Linked DNA regions of Homo sapiens: region 2 is linked to region 1. A link means that fine-mapping ties the variant in region 1 to the expression of a gene that starts in the linked region. Tissue or cell type: whole blood. Region 1 holds a variant in brackets; the other region holds the start of a gene. All regions are shown on one strand. Distances are from middle to middle. Region 1 overlaps SASH1 (SAM and SH3 domain containing 1). Region 2 holds the start of SASH1 (SAM and SH3 domain containing 1).

Evidence for each region. PIP is the estimated chance that this variant, and not a neighbour inherited with it, causes the effect.
Region 2: it holds the start of SASH1, and the variant in region 1 is fine-mapped to the expression of SASH1 in whole blood (TOPMed, PIP above 0.99).

Annotation. Positions count from the first base shown.
Region 1 is chr6:148,362,079-148,366,468 of GRCh38, forward strand. All of the region lies in intron 1 of SASH1 (SAM and SH3 domain containing 1), which reads left to right. Among named protein-coding and RNA genes, the nearest start is that of SASH1, 21 kb to the left of the region's middle. RefSeq lists a silencer at 2,581-2,781. The variant A/G (reference allele first, on the strand shown) is at 2,148.
Region 2 is chr6:148,340,495-148,344,884 of GRCh38, forward strand. It overlaps SASH1 (SAM and SH3 domain containing 1), which reads left to right and starts at 2,344. Exons shown (of 20, transcript NM_015278.5): 1 at 2,344-2,729. The coding sequence starts at 2,574. RefSeq lists an enhancer at 991-1,570.

The DNA of each region.
Region 1 (4,390 bases):
ATTTTTTGTTTGTTTGTTTGTTGTATTTTTAGTAGAGACGGGGTTTCTCCGTGTTAGCCAGGATGGTCTCGATATCCTGACCTTGTGATCCGCCCACCTTGGCCTCCCAAAGTGCTGGGATTACAGGCGTGAGCCACCGTGCCTGGCCTCTTTTTTTTTTTTGAGATGGAGTCTTGCTTTGTCGCTCAGGCTGGAGTGCAGTGGCGCCATCTTGGCTCACTACAACCTCTGCCTCTCTGGTTTAAGAGATTCTCCTGCCTCAGCCTCCCGAGTAGCTGGGATTACAGGCATGTGCCACCATGCCTGGCCAAATGTCCAGCATTTCTTACTAGGTTCTATGAGATAAGCAGTGATGTGGACTGAGCAATGAGGAAGAGATTGCAATGTGCCCCATCTTCCCTCCCACACAAGGCCTCAGTCTAATGCCCCTGGTTTTCTCCCCTTTCCTGCTTGCCATTTTTACTATTATATGCCTTTTTTTTTTTTGAAAGTGAGGTGAGGGTGAGGGTGTGGTCGTATGAGGAAACGGAGGCTTAGGAATGCTTTCCATCTTTGTTTTAAAATAGTGGAATTGAGCCTGGGTAACATAGTGAGACCCCTTCTCTACAAAAAATAAAAAATTAGTCAGGTGTGGTGGCGTGTGACTGTAGTCCCAGCTACTTGGAAGGATGAAGCAGGAGGATCACCTTAGCCCAGGAGGTTGAGGCTGCAGTGAGCCATGATTGTGCCACTGCACTCCAGCCCGGGAAACAGAGCAAGACCTTGCCTCAAAAATACATACATACATACAAGTAGTGGAATTGAGTTAAAGTTTCCTAAAGAAGATAATACCTCTTTGTTTTCCTCTTTGAATCTCAACTGCTACCTATCCCAACTGCCACCCAGGACAGAGCTGGGAGAGAGGGTGTGGAGAGAAAGTTGTAGTGCAGCATAGAAGTCTTATTGGTGCAGGGATTCCTGAAGTGGCTTCTTAGGTCTGGGCAGATATGCTGATGTGGGGCAGGGACCCTGGCCAAGGGTTTTGGGCATGGGCTGCATGGCTGCAAAGGAACCTTGGTGGTGATATCCATAAACACAGGGCTGCCCTGCCTCACCCCTTGGCCTCACCCTTTGAATTCCCTGTCCTCAATCCTTTGAATGCAACATCAGATGAATCACGGTGTTCTGGAGGACGTGGCGGTGGATAGTGTTAGGGACGGAGTGATTGAGGCTCTTCTTTATTTTTTTTATTTATTTATTTTTTTGTAGAGACAGGGTTTCACCATGTTGCCCAGACTGGCCTCAAACTCCTGGGCTCCAATGATGCGCCTGCCTGGGCCTCCCAACACTTCTTTTTTTTTTGAGATGGAGTCTTGGTCTGTTGCCAAGGCTGGAGTGCAGTGGCACGATCTTCGCTCACTGCAACCTGCACCTCCCAGATTCAAGCAATTCTCTGCCTCAGCCTCCTGAGTAGCTGGGATTACAGGCGCCCGCCACCACACCCGGCTAATTTTCTGTATTTTTAGTAGGGACGGGGTTTCACCATCTTGGCCATGCTGGTCTTGAACTCCTGACCTCGTGATCCACCCGTCTCGGCCTCCCAAAGTGCTGGGATTACAGGCATAAGCCACCACGCCCGGCCGATTGAGGCTCTTCTTAACCTCTGCTTCAGACCCCTCCTGGTACCACCTCACTCCCTGGTCTTTGAGGCTGTGTAAGATGTGCAGGCATCTTACAAGATTTGGAGAGTCAGAAATCACTCCTTGCTGGATTGCTGAGGGTTAGCAATGAAAGTAAAAGAGGATATGGAGAAAATGGAAACCACTTATAGGATATTTTATTCCCTGTGGATTCTATAATGGACATTTTAATTAAACTCTAATGGGACATACATTCTAAAAAGTTCTGATCCCTGAATAAATTAATATTAATGCCCACCATTCATTCAGAGTAAATGCATTGAGAGAAATGTCCTCACCAAGTAATATAAAAATGGAGAGTTAGAAAAATAAAATTTCCCAGCTCATCGGCAGCCCATCCTGTTGGTAAAGGACTGCTCCCTCTGGTCCATTACTGCCCATTACTTCCTCCAGCTCCACGTCAATGACTCATGCCAAAACCTCCATCACTTCCCTTTGGAGATTATTACACAGCCCAGCAGACATCCT[A/G]TTAAGAAACTTCTTATTAGCAGAGGAAAAGGAAAGTTTTCACGTTGAGATCGAGAAGGAAGATGATTCATGGTCACGAAGGGAAAGGTCCCCTGAAGTCTTGAGAGATGGCTCACCACTGCTCCACTTTCCTTTGGGGACACACACACTCACCATTAGCTGTGGGAAGTCGATGGGGTGTGTGGAGAGGACCATACTCAATTAAAAGAATGACAGTGGAATCAGTAATTTTGAATCAAGCTCAGCGATGGATTACAAAAGCAAGAGTGTAGACTCCTAACTAATGTAGGGTGGAAGTTGAAACGTGAAAGTTGCCTGTCCTGAGCACGTTTAGAGTTCACAATTCAATATTCAAGAAGAACGTAAGGCTAGCAGTTGCTATAGTTGGGACAGGAAATGACTCAAGTCCAAAAGGAAGGTTTCTGTAGATACAAGGTCAAGATGAGAATAGGTTCTGCCACGGGAAATGGGAAGAACACAAGGATAGAGTCTGCATCATCCCCAAGGGTTCTGACCATAGGAAACATTGCAAAATAGTACAAATGAAGCATGGAGTCAAAGATACCAATATTAAAAAATTAAGAACATTCCATGATTAACAAAAATTTTCCCTCCGGCCGGGCACAGTGCTTCATGCCTGTAATCTCAGCACTTTGGGAGGCTTAGGAAGACAGATCACCTGAGGTCAGGAGTGGGAGACCAGCCTGGCCAACATAGTGAAACCCCATCTCTACCAAAAATACAAAAATTAGCCAGGCATGGTGGTATGTGCCTGTAATCCCAGCTACTTGAGAGGCTGAGGCAGGAGAATCACTTGAACCTGAGAGGCGGAGGTTGCAGTGAGCTGAGATCGTGCCACTGCACTCCAGCCTGGGCACCAAAGTGAGACTCTGTCACAAAAAAAAAAAAGAAAGGAGAGGAAAAAGAAAATTTTCCCTTCAAGTATTTCACTGTGTCAGGTACTTTGTGATCAAGCTAGCTCCCAGCTGTCATGCCTCATTATCATATGATTTACAACCCATGATTGCTTTTTTAAATCGTATGGTCTGTTGACATTGCAAAATCAGTATTTCTCTTCTTTGCACATTCTTTAGCACCTACTATTTGTATCAGTCATTTGACATTTACAGTATTTAGGAAGCCTGATGGCCATTTTTTGTTTTATTGGATCAAATTCTTTTACTATCTTTTTTTTTTTTTTAACTGAGACATCTTGCAGGGCACAGAGTTCTCTGCAAAGATATTGTTGGTTCTCCTGGTAGAGGTGATGAGGAGGGGGTCATACTGAAGTACATCTCATTCTTGCCCACCTCATGACCATATTTCCCTTTAAGAATTCAAATGATGCATCCTCCATGATCGATCCTTAAGCACCTTTGATGTCTTGCTCTCCCTTGCTGAAATGGCTCACATAATGGGAGCTTTAACTGAAGGAGAGATGGAGCTAGGAATATAAAGATCATTTTTGCCTGGGTGTAGTGGCTCATCCCTATAATCCCAGCCCTTTGGGAGGCTGAGGTGGGTGGATCGTTGAGCTCAGGAGTTCGAGACCAGCTTGCACAACATGATGAAACCCCATGTCTACAAAAAAAAAATACAAAAATTAGCCGGGCAGGGTAGCTCGTGCCTGTAATCCCAGCACTTTGGGAGGCCAAGGCAGGCAGATCACCTGAGGTCAGGAGTTTGAGACCAGCCTGGCCAAAGTGGTGAAACCTCATCTCTACTAAAAACACAAAAATTAGCCAGGCGTGGTGGCGTGCGCCTGTAATCCCAGCTACTCAGGAGGCTGAGACAGGAGAATTGCTTGAACCTGGGAGGTGGAGGTTGCGGTGAGCCGAGGTGGCACCACTGCACTCCAGCCTGGGGGATAGAGTGAAACTCTGTCTCAAAAAAGAAAAGAAAAAAAAAAATTAGCCAGGCATGGTAGCGCTGCCTGTATTTCCAACTACTTGGAGGGCTGAGGTGGGAAGATTGCTTGAGCCTGGGACATTGTGGCTGCAGTGAGCTGTGTTCGCGCCACTGCAGTCCAGCCTGGGCAAAAGAGGGAGAGCCTGTCTCAAAAACACAAACCAAAAAAAACCCATAGAGATCATTTTTGAGAAGAAGTTTAAGAAAGGTAGACACTGTGCTGAGGAACTTAGTTGCTAAGATATAGACACAAGAAAATATTGGATACTTGGAAGGAGACGAGCAGACAACAGAACAAGAAGAACTTCATTTAAAGTCTTGTCCGGACTTGGTGG
Region 2 (4,390 bases), 22 kb before region 1:
AAAAAAAAAAAAGTATCACGTGGTGAATAAATTCAAATTCTTAAATATACCAATACAGTCAACTGTAAAGGCTATTTATCTTTTCCTATCATTTACTTATATTTATCTATTTATAGAAATGACAATTAAAAAAACCTCATCAGCCTTAACTGAATTTATTTTTATTCAAAGTATCACAGAGCACGAGGGAGCCTTGAAAACCCATCTGGCCTAACTCCGGCATCAGCCTAGGAAAGCACAAGACCTGGCTGTACTGACTCATAGTTCAGTGCTCTTTCTACTTCAACACAATGCCTCAATGCTATTAAGGAGAAATTTAATAATTCTTTTGGTTTCCTTTCACAAACATTATCGTCAGAGACTGTGCGCAGTGGCTCATGCCTATAATCCCAGCACTTGAGGAGACCAAGGAGGGAGGATCCCTTGAGTCCAGGAGTTTGAGACCACCTTGGGCAACAGCAAGAGATCATGTCTCTATAAAAAATTTAAAAAATTAGTCTGGTGCAGCGGTGTGCCTGTAGTCCCTGCTACTCAGGTGGTTGAGGCAGGAGGATTGCTTGAGCCCAGGAGTTCAAGGCCGCAGTGAGCTACGATTGCAGCACTGCACTGCCGGGGTGAGAGAGCAGGACCTTGTCTCTAAAAAAATTTTTCAGCATACTTTTTTTTTCTTTGGAGACAGAGAGTCTTCCTCTGTCACCCAGGCTGGAGTGCAGCAGCAGGACCTCACTGTAACCTTCGCCTCCTGGGTTCAAGCTATTCTCCTGCCTCAGCCTCCTGAGTAGCTGGGATTACAGGCATGTTCCAACACTCTTGCTATGTTTTGTTTTTTTTTTTTGTTTTTTTTTTTTTTGTATTTTTAGTAGAGACAGGGTTTTGCTGTGTTGACCAGGCTGTTCTCAAAATCCTGGCCTCAAGTGATTCGCCCGCCTCAGCCTCCCAAAGTGCTGGGATTACAGGCGCCAGCCCCGCACCCGCCAAAAACACACAAAAATTATCAGGGATTGTGTTTATAAATTTAGTTACTTTTGAAAATGTTTTTACATTTTGAACTTTCCTGTAAGGACTATTCACCCATTGCATTGATTGGTGCTCACAGCACTTAATACTTGAACAAGGGGAATTCAAGGACATGCTCTTATCCCCTTTCAAGTGGACTCAGAAGGAAAACAAAACAAAACAAAACAAAACAAACAAACAAACAAAAAAAACCCCACAATCAACAAGAAACAGGAGAGGCCTCAAAACAAGCAGGGCTCTCTCCCTGGGGCATCTCACTTTTTTTTTTCCTTTTAAACCACAAGGCCCTAACAGAGGAGCAAACTCCATGTGGTTTCTTAACTGTTTCAAAAGTGATCAATCACCAAATCGAATGTGACGTGCATTGTCACCTTCCAAGGAAAACTCTGAGTAGTCTTGAAAGATAGAATCACAAAAGGGAAAAATCACCTCTCCAGGGCTAGTTCCCTTATAAAATAAATCTGTCCTGGGGCTTCCCCTTGGAAAAACACACACAGGGCCCCAAGTGTGTGTAGGCTGACTGGCTACACAATCATTTGAATTTAGTTTCGAAAATAGCCCTTCCCTGTGTCCCTAATGTAAAGGAATAATTAAAACCCAAAGCGCATTTCCCTTAATTAGCCGAAAGCCCTAGCAATGCATGGCATTGTGGGCATTCAGGAGCCAAAATGCCCCCACTCATAAAAAATGATCCAAACAATGGCTCGTGCCCAAGCTTTCACACTTGTTTTGCAGAGAAGTCTTGGCTGGCAGAGGCAGGATTTGTAATTCCTTGGGTCGCTTGACTTCACGAGGGGCGAGGTATGCATTGTAGCGACACGGACTACTTGTGAAGCCTTTGGGCGGGAGTCGCTTAAAGATTAACTTTCTCGGGTTTCCGTTACCAAAAGCGTTTCCGTGAATAGCGTGATTGGAAACTTGTGCGGGCCGGAGACCGCGGCGCGGCTGCTCTTTCAACAGGCGATTTGTTCTCCTGTCCGAGGCTCATTTCCATGCAAAGAGCCTGACATCAGAGCACCTTTTGTTGCTAAACGCTTTCTTTAGCCTCGAGGGAGAGAGTCATGTGGAGCTGGAAGAGCTCATTTTGAAGAGAGGGGTCCCGGGGAGCTCCCTCCAAGATCTAGAGGCTCCGCGGCCACCCCTGCCGGGTCCTGCCAAGACTTGCTAGAAGGAACGAGTCGCGTGCCTTAGTTAGTTGGTTCCCGTCACAGGAAGAAACGCCTTTGCAGTGGGTTTAATTGCTTCTGGGCCGAGCGAATTCCCCGCCGTACAACTCAGTGGTGCGGACTTTGCCTCCTGCTACCCTGTTGCTGCGCCGAGCGGGGTGGGAAAGTTTCTGGAGTTGTCAGTCGCGCAGCCCGTGGCCACCTAGACCCGAGGTGCGGGCGCCTGCGAAGGGCCCCCGCGGGGTGGCCGGGGCCGCCGGGGCATGCAGCGCGGGGGCGCGGCTCGGTGACGCCGCGGGCGGGGACCCGGCATCCGGGCAGGCTGCGCGCGGGTGCGGGGCGAGGGCGCCGCGGGGACTGGGACGCACGGCCCGCGCGCGGGACACGGCCATGGAGGACGCGGGAGCAGCTGGCCCGGGGCCGGAGCCTGAGCCCGAGCCCGAGCCGGAGCCCGAGCCCGCGCCGGAGCCGGAACCGGAGCCCAAGCCGGGTGCTGGCACATCCGAGGCGTTCTCCCGACTCTGGACCGACGTGATGGGTATCCTGGTAAGTTACCTGGGGAGGGGGCGGCGCAGGAAGTACAGTTCGCAGCAGCCCCTCTGAAACCGGGGGCTCCCTTCTCGCCCACCCACTGGGCAACCCACTCCGCAGAGGCGTCCTTCTCTGGCTCTAGTTCTTAGGGGGCTAAATACACACAGTATAGGATTTCAAACCCTAATTAAAAAATAACCAGCCACAGGTCCCGTCAAAAGGTGTTTTTTAAACAATCGGGTATGATATTCAACAGTTTAATCTGGGACACCTGCTGACATGTTGGTGTGGAAAAGGCGAGAAAGAGGCCTTCAAAAAGTAGATGTAAATAAATATTTGGTTGGTGCTGGATTAGGGAAAAGGCTGATGTTACTGATGTTTATCTCTTCACCATTTGTTGTGTGACCACAAGAGGGAAAACAAACATTTCCTTACTCAGAACTGCCAAAATGTTTGCCTACTTTTTTTTGCAGTTTTTCAATTTGTGGAGTTACAGGATATTTGTTTTATATGTTTGGGGCTAAAACAATAGGACTTATTTTGCTAAATCTGTGCTGTCATGTATTTTGAAATGTCCAGTGACTAAAAGCGCCCCTGGATTTGGCATAGTCTCTGGGAAGCAGTTCTTCTGTATGGAGGGTGAAGTTTTAACCTGCTCAGGGTTGAATACCTTGGGGAAGTAATAGATTTGCTTTGGTGGAGCTGTAGTTAGGCAGGTAGACTGGAATCAGATGGGCGAGGTTTATTACAGTCAGACATCTTAATCCATACATAAAAGACAACTTTAGTTTAAAGACTTGGAATGGCCAGATGTGCAGATTATCAGAAAAGTCTCTAGATTTGCTTTGAGATCTTATATTTTTTGAGTGGGAGGAGATGGAGTGAAAGTTCTTCTTTGGGAATGATAAACCGTGTACAGTTTTTAGCACAGTGATTAAACTCTTGGGCTTCAAAGTAAGTTATACTAGGTCAAATGCCAGCTCTCCAATTGACTGTTTACATGATCTTGGCCAAGTCATTCAACCTCTCTGATCCTCAGTTTCATCACCTGAAAATTGAAGAAAAGAAGACTTGCTTCTTGGGGTTTCTGAGATTTAGCTGGGTTGATGTGTGTATCAAGTACTCAGCAGACTGTATAGCATATAGTAGAGGCTCAATAAGTGTAGCTGTCTTTCAGGTTTTATTTGTTTCCTGCAAAGTCTCCTGTCTCTTCCTTCTGGACATCCTAAAAGCCCAGTTACTCCATTTTCAGGTGACCATTGGTATTTATGATTCTTACTATACAGAGAACCAGCGAGCGTTGGTTAAAGATTTCTATCTGCTCTTGTCACTCTCCAGTATTGAAAAATGTATATAAATATGCATGCAATGTATATTTACATACTATATATAGCACATGTATATAATATACCTAAATCTAATATATATTTTAGATTTAAAAGGTTTTGTTTTTGCATTTTCTGAAGTATACAGATGAATATGATCCTTCACTGAAGTTCCAGAAAACCTAATGGACATTTTAAAGTTGTGATAAACTTTTTCTTTTCTTTTTTTTTTTTTTTTTTGAGACGAAGTCTTGCTCCGTCGCCCAGGCTGGGGTGCAGTGGCACGAGCTCAGCTCACTGCAACCTCCGCCTCCTGAGTTCAAGCAATTTTCCTGCCTCAGCCTCCTGAGT